Linked DNA regions of Homo sapiens. The protein of the gene in region 1 interacts with the protein of each later gene in a biochemical or structural test. Each region holds a gene or a part of one and is shown on either strand. Other genes may lie near its edges.

Region 1 (3,942 bases):
CCAACTGGGGGTATATACCCCAACACTAGGCTCCCCACCAGCCATATGCCTTCTCATCTGGGCACTTACTACTAAAGACCTGGCGGAGGCTTTTCCCATCAGCGTGCATTCACCAGCCCATCGCCACAAACTCTATCGGAGAACATGAATCAAAAGTGCCTCAAGAGGAATGAAAAAAGCTTTACTGGGGCTGGGGAAGGAAGCCGGGGAAGAGATCCAAAGACTCTTGGGAGGGAGTTACTGAAGTCTTACTACAGAAATGAGGAGGATGCTAAAAATGTCACGAATATGGACATATCATCTGTGGACTGACCTTGTAAAAGACAGTGTATGTAGAAGCATGAAGTCTTAAGGACAAAGTGCCAAAGAAAGTGGTCTTAAGAAATGTATAAACTTTAGAGTAGAGTTTGGAATCCCACTAATGCAAACTGGGATGAAACTAAAGCAATAGAAACAACACAGTTTTGACCTAACATACCGTTTATAATGCCATTTTAAGGAAAACTACCTGTATTTAAAAATAGAAACATATCAAAAACAAGAGAAAAGACACGAGAGAGACTGTGGCCCATCAACAGACGTTGATATGCAACTGCATGGCATGTGCTGTTTTGGTTGAAATCAAATACATTCCGTTTGATGGACAGCTGTCAGCTTTCTCAAACTGTGAAGATGACCCAAAGTTTCCAACTCCTTTACAGTATTACCGGGACTATGAACTAAAAGGTGGGACTGAGGATGTGTATAGAGTGAGCGTGTGATTGTAGACAGAGGGGTGAAGAAGGAGGAGGAAGAGGCAGAGAAGGAGGAGACCAGGGCTGGGAAAGAAACTTCTCAAGCAATGAAGACTGGACTCAGGACATTTGGGGACTGTGTACAATGAGTTATGGAGACTCGAGGGTTCATGCAGTCAGTGTTATACCAAACCCAGTGTTAGGAGAAAGGACACAGCGTAATGGAGAAAGGGGAAGTAGTAGAATTCAGAAACAAAAATGCGCATCTCTTTCTTTGTTTGTCAAATGAAAATTTTAACTGGAATTGTCTGATATTTAAGAGAAACATTCAGGACCTCATCATTATGTGGGGGCTTTGTTCTCCACAGGGTCAGGTAAGAGATGGCCTTCTTGGCTGCCACAATCAGAAATCACGCAGGCATTTTGGGTAGGCGGCCTCCAGTTTTCCTTTGAGTCGCGAACGCTGTGCGTTTGTCAGAATGAAGTATACAAGTCAATGTTTTTCCCCCTTTTTATATAATAATTATATAACTTATGCATTTATACACTACGAGTTGATCTCGGCCAGCCAAAGACACACGACAAAAGAGACAATCGATATAATGTGGCCTTGAATTTTAACTCTGTATGCTTAATGTTTACAATATGAAGTTATTAGTTCTTAGAATGCAGAATGTATGTAATAAAATAAGCTTGGCCTAGCATGGCAAATCAGATTTATACAGGAGTCTGCATTTGCACTTTTTTTAGTGACTAAAGTTGCTTAATGAAAACATGTGCTGAATGTTGTGGATTTTGTGTTATAATTTACTTTGTCCAGGAACTTGTGCAAGGGAGAGCCAAGGAAATAGGATGTTTGGCACCCAAATGGCGTCAGCCTCTCCAGGTCCTTCTTGCCTCCCCTCCTGTCTTTTATTTCTAGCCCCTTTTGGAACAGAAGGACCCCGGGTTTCACATTGGAGCCTCCATATTTATGCCTGGAATGGAAAGAGGCCTATGAAGCTGGGGTTGTCATTGAGAAATTCTAGTTCAGCACCTGGTCACAAATCACCCTTAATTCCTGCTATGATTAAAATACATTTGTTGAACAGTGAACAAGCTACCACTCGTAAGGCAAACTGTATTATTACTGGCAAATAAAGCGTCATGGATAGCTGCAATTTCTCACTTTACAGAAACAAGGGATAACGTCTAGATTTGCTGCGGGGTTTCTCTTTCAGGAGCTCTCACTAGGTAGACAGCTTTAGTCCTGCTACATCAGAGTTACCTGGGCACTGTGGCTTGGGATTCACTAGCCCTGAGCCTGATGTTGCTGGCTATCCCTTGAAGACAATGTTTATTTCCATAATCTAGAGTCAGTTTCCCTGGGCATCTTTTCTTTGAATCACAAATGCTGCCAACCTTGGTCCAGGTGAAGGCAACTCAAAAGGTGAAAATACAAGGTGACCGTGCGAAGGCGCTAGCCGAAACATCTTAGCTGAATAGGTTTCTGAACTGGCCCTTTTCATAGCTGTTTCAGGGCCTGTTTTTTTCACGTTGCAGTCCTTTTGCTATGATTATGTGAAGTTGCCAAACCTCTGTGCTGTGGATGTTTTGGCAGTGGGCTTTGAAGTCGGCAGGACACGATTACCAATGCTCCTGACACCCCGTGTCATTTGGATTAGACGGAGCCCAACCATCCATCATTTTGCAGCAGCCTGGGAAGGCCCACAAAGTGCCCGTATCTCCTTAGGGAAAATAAATAAATACAATCATGAAAGCTGGCAGTTAGGCTGACCCAAACTGTGCTAATGGAAAAGATCAGTCATTTTTATTTTGGAATGCAAAGTCAAGACACACCTACATTCTTCATAGAAATACACATTTACTTGGATAATCACTCAGTTCTCTCTTCAAGACTGTCTCATGAGCAAGATCATAAAAACAAGACATGATTATCATATTCAATTTTAACAGATGTTTTCCATTAGATCCCTCAACCCTCCACCCCCAGTCCAGGTTATTAGCAAGTCTTATGAGCAACTGGGATAATTTTGGATAACATGATAATACTGAGTTCCTTCAAATACATAATTCTTAAATTGTTTCAAAATGGCATTAACTCTCTGTTACTGTTGTAATCTAATTCCAAAGCCCCCTCCAGGTCATATTCATAATTGCATGAACCTTTTCTCTCTGTTTGTCCCTGTCTCTTGGCTTGCCCTGATGTATACTCAGACTCCTGTACAATCTTACTCCTGCTGGCAAGAGATTTGTCTTCTTTTCTTGTCTTCAATTGGCTTTCGGGCCTTGTATGTGGTAAAATCACCAAATCACAGTCAAGACTGTGTTTTTGTTCCTAGTTTGATGCCCTTATGTCCCGGAGGGGTTCACAAAGTGCTTTGTCAGGACTGCTGCAGTTAGAAGGCTCACTGCTTCTCCTAAGCCTTCTGCACAGATGTGGCACCTGCAACCCAGGAGCAGGAGCCGGAGGAGCTGCCCTCTGACAGCAGGTGCAGCAGAGATGGCTACAGCTCAGGAGCTGGGAAGGTGATGGGGCACAGGGAAAGCACAGATGTTCTGCAGCGCCCCAAAGTGACCCATTGCCTGGAGAAAGAGAAGAAAATATTTTTTAAAAAGCTAGTTTATTTAGCTTCTCATTAATTCATTCAAATAAAGTCGTGAGGTGACTAATTAGAGAATAAAAATTACTTTGGACTACTCAAAAATACACCAAATTCTGTGCCTTCTTTTTATCTTTTAACCTTGGTTTAAAGAAATCTTGTTGACTCACACCTGTAATCCCAACACTTTGAAGGACAGAGGCGGGTGGATCGCTTGAGCCCGGGACCAGCCTGGGCAACATGAGAGTACCCAGTCTCTACAAAAAAATAAATAAATACAAAAAGCCGGGCATGGTGGTGCACAACTGCAGTCCCAGGAGTTCAAGGCTGCAGTGAGCTGTGATCACGCCACTAGCCTGGGTGACAGAGTGACACCCTGATTCAAAAATAAAATAAATTTTTGACAAAGCAGCCCAGATTAATGCTATATAGAAACAACTAGATAAACTTTTCTAACTTGTAATTTTAAACTCATTTTACTGAGTAAAACATCATTATCTTCTCACAAAAAAATGTTAAACTATTATTCTGTTGGAGAAAGTCATAATATTACCTGATTATAATTAGTGCTAGAATATGTGAATTACAAACTTCTGCAGGAAGCA
Region 2 (3,500 bases), on another chromosome or scaffold:
ATCCATTGTCCCACCCATCCATCCTTCTCTCTATCCATCCATCCATCCTTCCATCCATCCATCCACCTCCCCACCCATCCATCCTTCTGTCCATCCATCCATCCATCCATCTCTCCATCCATCCATCCATCCATCCATTGTCTCAACCATCCATCCTTCTCTCTATCCATCCATCCATCCATCCATCCATCTACCCACCCATCCATCCTTCTCTCTATCCATCCATCTATTGACCCACCCATCCATCCTTCTATCTATCCATCCATCCATTCATCCACTCACCCACCTACCCACCCATCCATCCTTCTGTACATCCATCCATCCATCCATCCACCCACCTACCTATCCATCCATCCTTCCATCCATCCATTTATCCATCCATCCATCCATCCATCTATCCACCCACCTACCCACCCATACATCCATCCATCCACCTCCCCATCCATCCACTTCCCCATCCATCCATCCATCCATCCATCTCCCCATCCACCCATCCACCTCTCTATCCATCCATCTCCCCACCCAGCCATCCTTCCCTCCATCATCCATCCATCCATCTCATCCATCCGTTCATCTCCTCATCCATCCATCCATCCATCCATCCATCCATCCATCCATCCATCCACCTCCCCATCCGTCCGTCCATCCATCCATCCATCCATCTATCCCCCCATCCATCCATCCATCCATCCATCCATCCATCCATCTATCCATCCACCTCCCCATCCATCCATTCATCCACCCACCTTCCTACCCATCCATCCTTCTGTCCATCCACTCATCTACCTCCTCATCCATCCATCCATCCATCCATCCACCAATCCATCCATCCATCTCCCTACTCATCCATCTCCCCACCCATCCTTCTGTCCATCCACCTCCCCATCCATCTACCACCCCATTCATACATCCATCCATCCATCCACCCACCTCCCCATCCATCCGTCCATCCATCCATCCATCCCACCAAGAAGAGAAACCATAAACAAATCTGAGACCCTAGAGAAGGGCACTGATAGGAGACCCCCAGCCAGTGGGCTGCAGCCAAAGATGTTGCAGGCATCTCTGTGTGCACTGTGGGGGCATCATGCTCACCCCAGCACAGAGCACAGCCACTGGCCTCAGTGAAGTTGGCTGGAGGCTACAACAGGCCTCCCTCACAGCCCTGGGAGGTGAGGGTGGAGACCCAGTAGCCTGGGGGGGGACAAGACCCCCATGTGGCAGCTGCACAATTGGTTTAAGTAGATCCATGAGAAATGCCAGGGACGCTCATGTGCCGCTGTGCCTGTGCTGCATCTGGCTGAGAGGCCCCTTTAGTGATAGAGACCTGCAGCATCCAAGTGGGGCCCAGAGAGCCTGCAGGGAGCAGGGAGCAGGGCCTGCAGGGAGCAGGGAGCAGGGCCACCAGGCCCCAGGCAGAAGCAGTCAGTCGCCCCGCCCACACTCACAGGGAGGAGTCCTCAGACAAAGGAGGGGTCCCATAGTGCCTCCTTTGAGGGAAAGTGCTCTCCGGGGGCAAGGATGGGACCCCAGGTTCAGACAGCCCCTCTCTGCCCATCCTCCCGCTTCTCTGTCCCTGTGGCTTTTCCGTGGGTTCCTGGGAGCTCTGCTGCTCAGCCTCTTATTTCCCCAGCTGGGTGGGAGAGCCCCCACTTCCCTTGGAATCTCTGTGTCTGCCCTTGTCCCTGGCCTCCCTTCCCCTGCACTCCGCCCATGTGGCCCCAACCCCCAGGCCTGTCGGGGGGATCCAGTCCCAGGCTTTGTTGGTTTCCAGGCTCTGTCCCCGAATATCCTGCCCCAGCATCCCCTCGGGCCCCACCTTCCCCTCACACCCCCTCCCCTCTGCAGGCATTGGCACGGTGCCCGTGGGCCGGGTGGAGACCGGCATCCTGCGGCCGGGCATGGTGGTGACCTTTGCGCCAGTGAACATCACCACTGAGGTGAAGTCAGTGGAGATGCACCACGAGGCTCTGAGCGAAGCTCTGCCCGGCGACAACGTCGGCTTCAATGTGAAGAACGTGTCGGTGAAGGACATCCGGCGGGGCAACGTGTGTGGGGACAGCAAGTCTGACCCGCCGCAGGAGGCTGCTCAGTTCACCTCCCAGGTGGGGGGCTGCGCTGGGTCCAGGGGGCTGGCGCCTGCTGGACAGCAGCAGGACTGTCCTGGGTGAGGCTGCTGTCGGCAGGTGGCCTGGCGTGGGGAGAAAACCAGACCCTCAGGCTGGGCGCAGTGGTTCACGCCTGTAATCCCAGCACTTTGAGAGGCCGAGGCGGGCAGATCACGAGGTCAAGAGATCAAGTCCATCCTGGTCAACATGGTGAAACCCCGTCTCTACTAAAAATACAAAAATTAGCCAGGCGTGGTGGCACGTGCCTGTAGTCCCAGCTATCAGGAAGCTGAGGCAGGAGAATCGCTTGAACCTGGGAGGCGGAGGTTGCAGTGAGCCGAGATTGCGCCACTGCACTCCAGCCTGCGTGACAGAGCGAGACTTCGTCTCAAAAGAAAAAAAAAAAAAGAAAAGGGACCCGCATACCACCGAGGGGGCCACCGAGCACTCAACGAGGGGATCAATCAGTTCTGGGAGGGGTGCAGGCCCTGTGGCTCCCAGCCTGTGTGCAATCGCGGGTCTGTCTTCCACGCTGCACTGCTGGGATGCCCAGCCTTTGAGGTCCTACATTCGTCCTAGAAAAACGCTTTTGTTAACTTACTGTCTGAGACATCTCTGTCATACTTTTATTCTCTACAGTCTTCATTGCCCCTCTTTGCTGGCCTCTTCATATGATTTATTTATTTTTTTTTTGAGACGGAGTCTCGCTCTGTTGCCCAGGCTGGAGTGCAGTGGTGCGATCTCGGCTCACTGCAACCTCCGCCTCCCGGGTTCAAGTGATTCTCCTGCCTCAGCCTCCCAAGTAGGTAAGATTACAGGCATGTGCCACCACGCCTGGCTAATTTTTGTATTATTAGTAGATACGGGGTTTCACCATGTTGGCCAGGCCGGTCTCGAACTCCTGACCTCAAGTGATCCACGTGCGTCAGCCTCCCAAAGTACTGGGATGACAGGTGTGAGCCACCGTGCCTGGCCTCTTCATATGATTTTTAAAAGTGGCTTTATTGAGATACAACTGAAACACAGGAATTGAGGTCCAGTTTTGTCACCCCCCCGCCTTAGTTCCAGCTGGGGTTGGCCGTGTAAGTGCTGCCCCTGCCCCTTCGAAACAATGAATCTCAGTTGTTTATCTTTTGCTTAATGAGGATGTTGAGGTTCAGGTCTGGGGGCTGGGTCCTCAGAGCCTGAGCCCCCTCCAGTCAGCACTCCGGGCCCAGGAGCCCGTGCAGGGGCGCCGGTGACTGGGCCTCCCAGCCCCGCTCTGGCGCCCTCCCGGTGCCCACCGCCGATGTGCCTGATGGCCGCCTGTGGCTCCGCTCGCAGGTCATCATCCTGAACCACCCGGGGCAGATTAGCGCCGGCTACTCCCCGGTCATCGACTGCCACACAGCC
Region 3 (3,500 bases), on another chromosome or scaffold:
TTGAGACAGGTTTTTCCCATGTTGCCCAGGCTGATCTTGAACTCCTGGGCTCAAGTGATCTGCCCATCTCGGCCTCCCAAAGTGCTGGGATTATAGGCATGAGCCTCCAGGCCTGCCCCAAAGATTTTTAATCCACAATTTAAGGTATGAGAAACAAACAAAGTGGTGTGTATGCAGCAAGCCTTGTCACTGGACAACTGAAGTTGCCGCAAAGTCAAAGCAAGTCAGTACCCTCCTGAGCCAGCCTTTCTATGATTTACAGCAATAGTATCATACTCAATGCTCCCTAGTGACCCCTCCAGCTTGGTTAAAATTTCACAATAGATATATGTGCAAATTTAAAGAAAGTAAAGATGTTCCCTTTGTACAAAAGCCTAATAAAGCAATTTCTGAAAAAGGTGTTGTTGTTGTTGTTTTTTAGCATTGGCAAGGAACTAAAAATTCTGTTCTAAGCTTCACCTTTCATAAAGTAATCCTCTCATGCTCTTTAATCCTCAATGTTGTAAGGTAAGTATTAAACCTACTTTATAGGTGAAGAACTAAGGCTCTGATATTAACTTGTTCAAAGACCTAGCCATTGAGCAGAAGCTCAAGAACTCGAATTTAAATTCCCTTTAAGTCTCTATTATGGGGTGGTGGGGATGTAGAGGGGGTTGGAGGCCGGGAGACTATTCGCATTCTGTATCAGAGGAAAACGAAAGAAAAAGAGACCAAAGCTTTGAAGACTTTTAAATCCAACCCTATTGTGGGCACATTCCTTGTATACTGAGGGCAATGGAGCTACAGAGCATTAACAAATACTCATCTTCCCAGATTTTTTTCCCCATATTTTATGAGCTATATTTTTCCTGATATGTTTATCTTTGAAGACTCTTTAAAATTAGGCCCTATTCCATAATTTCTATACAACAAAATTATGTCCTCCTGCCTACTTTTAATTGAATTTAAGTCTGCGCCTGTTGTGATGCTTCTGTGATAATCCTTTTGCTGAATGGCGTAAGATCTCTACTAAGATCCATTTGGCTTAAACCTAATGAACACTAGTGAACACATCCTTAAATGACTTTTGTTTATTTCCTTTAAGTAACACTTCCAAAAAAACAAATTCAAGGCAATTCAATATTCAGCATTAGCTAGACTTATGAGCCATTACTGAAATTTCTACTGACTTTATCAAATTTTTTCATGGAATCTCCCAAATGCCTATACTCACGCATAACTGTTAACACGGCATTTGGTACTAAATTCTCACACATAAGCTTTATTATATTATTTAAGGTATTCTTATTCCCAAGAATTACTATTTCAAAGAAAACCAAGTTGGTCACTTTAAGCAACTATTTGAATAAATGAAAAACTGAAGTAATTCTCAGGTGCTTTGAGAGTTCTCTGTTTAATTTAAAAACGTTTTGGGGGAGAAGTAAAATAGTGGCCTTTGAAAAAATATGCTGACACAAGACATATTGAATTTTGTGGTTTTAAAAAATTAACAAATAATGAACTTGGCATTTTATTAAATGCATCGAAAAGGGTCAAGTTATTTTTAATAGAAAATCCATAATTCTATTAAATGGTTGAGAAATTAGTCACATCAATAGACTTCTTTCATTTCTGAGCCCATCTTCTGTACTGCTACAAGTTCCTTTGGCAATGACCACTTTGCTGTAAACATTCTTAGAAAAGTAGGAATTAGGCTTGGCGCGGTGGCTCATGCATGTAATCCCAGCACTTTGGGAGGCCGAGGCTGGTGGATCACGAGGTCAGGAGATCGAGACCATCCTGGCTAACACGGTGAAACCCTGTATCTACTAAAAATACAAAAAATTAGCCAGGCGTGGTGGCGGGCGCCTGTAGTCCCAGCAACTTAGGAGGCTAAGGCAGGAGAATGGCGTGAACCTGGGAGGCGGAGCTTGCAGTGAGCCGAGATTGCGCCACTGCACTCCAGCCTGGGTAACAGAGTGAGACTCCATCTCAAAAAAAAAAAAAAAAGAAAAGTAGGAACTAGATATACAATTGGATCCTTCTCAGCCCAAACCTAGATATGAAGACACCTTTTACTTTACAGTGACCGCTTTGTAACTGGAAGACATCAGTGTAGGCTCTGCTGATTCAATTAGGTAAAGACTCAACAACACTAGTTACATGTTACAATTCACTGTGTAAATGTCAAGAAGATTTAAAACTTTAACAGGGAATACCAATGAAAGACAGACTCCCCAACATCAATCACTATTTCAAACCTAACATTCAAAATAAAGATCCAGTTGAGAATAGAGGCTGTCTCATCAAAGTTTACATTTTACAATGAGGACAGAGAGGCACCTTCATATACTTATCTAATTCTCAACAGTTTGTGAAACATAAATATTATCCTTGCTTATGGATAAGAAAACAAGGTTCAGTGGTCAGATCATGTTTCATAGGAAGAACAGGGACTTATCTCGATTTTTCGGAATCCTACACCAATTTTCTATTTTACCACAGCTGTCTCCTCACACCCCCACTCTTCCCCTAGACCTAACATTCCACATACAAAGGGTCCAAGCTATCTCTAACAGCAGATAATCAAGGGCAGGTTCTGACATCTGTACTAGAAGCTTACCAATTACAGCCTGAGTGGGGTTTCCAGAATCTGGACCAAGGCAGCATGTTATCAAAAAGGGGACATGAAAAGGCATAAAGGGTAAAAAGAAAAAAACGTTTCCTTTCCTGGTCTCTGGTTCTCCCCATAAGCCTATGCAATCTATATTATCTTTATTCAATTCAGATTTAATGCACATAAAAATGTGGTGCCTAATAAGTTTTCAAAATTAGTTCCCTTCATCCCACTTCTGCTGCTTGGCAAGAGCTCACATAGTCAACTACAAGGAAACAAAGGGGCTACCTTACTGGAGTCAGGTTAAGTAAAAGGTCTTAGCCAATGAGATCCACAAATGACAATGATCCTGAAGCCTCCTAGATTAGTCTCCTGCACAATCAGTAATATACCTACAAAGCTTTATAAATCTGGGCATTCATACATATATGATAGCAAGATTAACATTTGGACTTCTACTAAGGGGAAAAAGGGTGTATTATTCTGGTGGAGGACTAACCTTCAACAAAGAACTTTTTTTCTATAAACTCCAATAGCCAAGAAAAGTCCTAGGCATCTATCTTTGCTAGCGTGTGCTAAGAAAAACAATATAAAGAATAATGGGACCACAAGCTGGCTGGGTCGGTTTCGTTCTTAAAATATAGGAAAACGTCAGAATACCCAGGGATCTGTTAAATTCTTTTCCCAACATCATCATTTACAACAACAAATACAGGAGATCTGAAGTCCCTAAAAATACTGATTGCTTTAACATCTTTTGTTGGAGCTTACCTAGGTGTTTCTTAGGAATGCTAATGAACTGTGTTCTTTAGGCTCCTTGAATCCACAGAAACAAAAATGTTAATTTCAAAGGCTCAGAGGGGAATTAATTGCCTGGTAGAGATGCCTCCCCACCCCAAATCTG
Region 4 (2,663 bases), on another chromosome or scaffold:
GTCGAGGCCCATCTGATTCCTGAGCCCACATTCCTCCTCCCAGCAGATAGGACAGAGAATACAAATCAGAGGAGCCTGCAGAGCCCAAACAAGCACCCCAGGGTATGAGGCAGCATTACCTGTGTATGCGCTGCACCTCTGATGCTAGCGTATATGGCTGGACTGCGGACAGTCACAAAGTAAGACGAATGCCAGTGCCTCTTAGGATTATCTCCCTAAGCACATTCCAAACTGAGGACAGCATGCCACTCACCTTCGCAGTTTTTGCTGCTTCGGCAACTACCTGCGGGGCTTTTACCACTTCAGCAACCACCTCTTTTTTGGCAGACTCACTGAAAAAGAGGTAGCAATAGGTCAAATTCACTGAATGGCTTTCCAGGGCAGTACTGATGTTATGTAGTGTTATCTGGCAAGTCTAAAGCCACCATCAAAATACTGACGCTGGACAGAAGAACTCACCACTTACTGTTGCAGACTGACTCCCTCTAGAGTCCCACGAGCCAGACTAGAAAGGGATAACTGTCTGCCGTGCAGGCCCACACCCCTAACTGGCCTGGGCAGCCAAAATCTCACGGGAGCTGAAGAGCTGGTTCCTGTGGTCCTGCATTTAGCAAGTTTGCCCCAAACCAAGTGACTCCCCCTCCCCTGGGCTCTACAACCTCCATGCTCACCTGTTCCTCACCTGTTGTCCATGTACTCCTGCGTCCAGATGGCAAGTGGGCTCTACCTTCCCATCCTCACCTGTTGTTGACATACTCCTGCATCAAGGCAGCAAGTGTGCCGTCTCTACCCACCCCGGCTCTGAAACATCCTGCCCTCACCTGTAGTCAACATACTCCTGCTTCCAGGTGGCAGGTGTGCTGTCTGTGGGCTTCCCATGCTTGTCCAGAAGGCCCTGCTTGATCATCAGCTTCTTCTGACTTGCCTGGTGGAACATCAAGGTGTCAACATTAGAATGGTGTCAATGCTGGAAGCGGGCATGGTGACTACAAAGAATAGAACAAGGTTCCTCCCTGGTGTATTCTCAGCAGGGCCTCAAACTCCTCTCCAGAGCATTCAGAATTTGCCCACTAACTCCAACACACACAGGACTTGTTGAAGATCACAAAGCTTATTAGTGAGAGCCTCTGCAGACATAACGTCCCCACCGCAGCCACTCTACTTTTTTGCCTTTGCACATGCTGCTTGCTCCCAATGCCCTGAACTCTCCCCTCCCCTCTTCACTTCACCAACACCTAACCCACTCTTCACACCGGTGTGGCTTAACAGACAATCCCTTGACCAGACTCCTTGACCACTGTGGACACTCCAGGTGACAGACACCTCTCTGCACTCCTTGGTAGCCACTAACGTGCATGAAATTCGCCATTCCACTGTGTGATTACGTGAGTAATGCCCAACTGTTTCCCCTCATTAGACTGAAATCTCTAAGGCCCAAGACAGGGCCTGTTTCCACTCATCGACAACCCAGAGCCCAGCACAATACAAGGCTGTGGTGGTGAAACACACCAAGAGCTGCCCAAGTATTCAACAATGCCAAACAAAAGAACCTGGCAGGAGCCGCCCCATCCGGGAGGGAGGTGGGGGGGGGTCAGCCCCCCCGCCCGGCCAGCCGCCCCGTCCGGGAGGTGAGGGGCGCCTCTGCCCGGCCGCCCCTACTGGGAAGTGAGGAGCCCCTCTGCCCGGCCGCCACCCCGTCTGGGAGGTGTGCCCAACAGCTCATTGAGAACGGGCCAGGATGGCAATGGCGGTTTTGTGGAATAGAAAGGCGGGAAAGGTGGGGAAAAGATTGAGAAATCGGATGGTTGCCGTGTCTGTGTGGAGAGAAGTAGACATGGGAGACTTTTCATTTTGTTCTGCACTAAGAAAAACTCTTCTGCCTTGGGATCCTGTTGATCTGTGACCTTACCCCCAACCCTGTGCTCTCTGAAACATGTGCTGTGTCCACTCAGGGTTAAATGGATTAAGGGCGGTGCAAGATGTGCTTTGTTAAACAGATGCTTGAAGGCAGCATGCTCCTTAAGAGTCATCACCACTCCCTAATCTCAAGTAATCAGGGACACAGACACTGCGGAAGGCCGCAGGGTCCTCTGCCTAGGAAAACCAGAGACCTTTGTTCACTTGTTTATCTGCTGACCTTCCCTCCACTATTGTCCCATGACCCTGCCAAATCCCCCTCTGTGAGAAACACCCAAGAATTATCAATAAAAAAATAAATTTAAAAAAAAAAAAAAAAAAAAAAGAACCTGGCAGGGCACGCAACCCAGTACCACTTACCTTTGGACCTAAACCCCACTTCCGAGGGTAAGTGTCTCTCTCCATGATCACTCTCTTGATCTTGGCTACTATACCATGGTCGCAGGTAGAGATGACCGCTGTGGTCATTAATGCAATAGCTACAGGCATTGAATAAAGAAAAGAATTATTTGAAGGGTGAAAGAATTGATAATTGATGAGCCCCAATTCTACTGTTGTATGCCACTTTAAAACTTTTAAAACTCTGAGCTACTACTTTAATTGGGGTTACCTTTGCTCAGGATGTGCATATGGAGGAAATACTCCATTATGAGAAGGAGGCCTTTGAAATGACGTTAAACTTCTGAAGTTAAAAAACACCTAACCAAAGCACCTAACGATACACATAACAGGCTTGCAGCTCAAGA

Evidence for each region.
Region 2: the proteins of ERG (region 1) and EEF1A2 form a complex in vitro, tested with the Homo sapiens proteins (one large-scale study listed by BioGRID).
Region 3: the proteins of ERG (region 1) and TOP1 form a complex in vitro, tested with the Homo sapiens proteins (one large-scale study listed by BioGRID).
Region 4: the proteins of ERG (region 1) and DKC1 form a complex in vitro, tested with the Homo sapiens proteins (one large-scale study listed by BioGRID).

What each region holds. Positions count from the first base shown.
Region 1 is NC_000021.9:38,379,536-38,383,477, reverse strand, and holds the end of ERG (transcriptional regulator ERG), read left to right. Parts: coding exon 1-75; 3' UTR 76-3,442; downstream 3,443-3,942. UniProt on the Homo sapiens protein: Transcriptional regulator. May participate in transcriptional regulation through the recruitment of SETDB1 histone methyltransferase and subsequent modification of local chromatin structure.
Region 2 is NC_000020.11:63,489,084-63,492,583, reverse strand, and holds part of EEF1A2 (elongation factor 1-alpha 2), read left to right. Parts: intron 1-1,848; coding exon 1,849-2,105; intron 2,106-3,431; coding exon 3,432-3,500. UniProt on the Homo sapiens protein: Translation elongation factor that catalyzes the GTP-dependent binding of aminoacyl-tRNA (aa-tRNA) to the A-site of ribosomes during the elongation phase of protein synthesis.
Region 3 is NC_000020.11:41,035,322-41,038,821, reverse strand, and holds part of TOP1 (DNA topoisomerase 1), read right to left. Parts: intron 1-3,500. UniProt on the Homo sapiens protein: Releases the supercoiling and torsional tension of DNA introduced during the DNA replication and transcription by transiently cleaving and rejoining one strand of the DNA duplex.
Region 4 is NC_000023.11:154,772,864-154,775,526, reverse strand, and holds part of DKC1 (H/ACA ribonucleoprotein complex subunit DKC1), read right to left. Parts: intron 2,397-2,663; coding exon 2,278-2,396; intron 926-2,277; coding exon 822-925; coding exon of another isoform or gene 818-821; exon of another isoform or gene 333-817; coding exon 254-332; intron 1-253.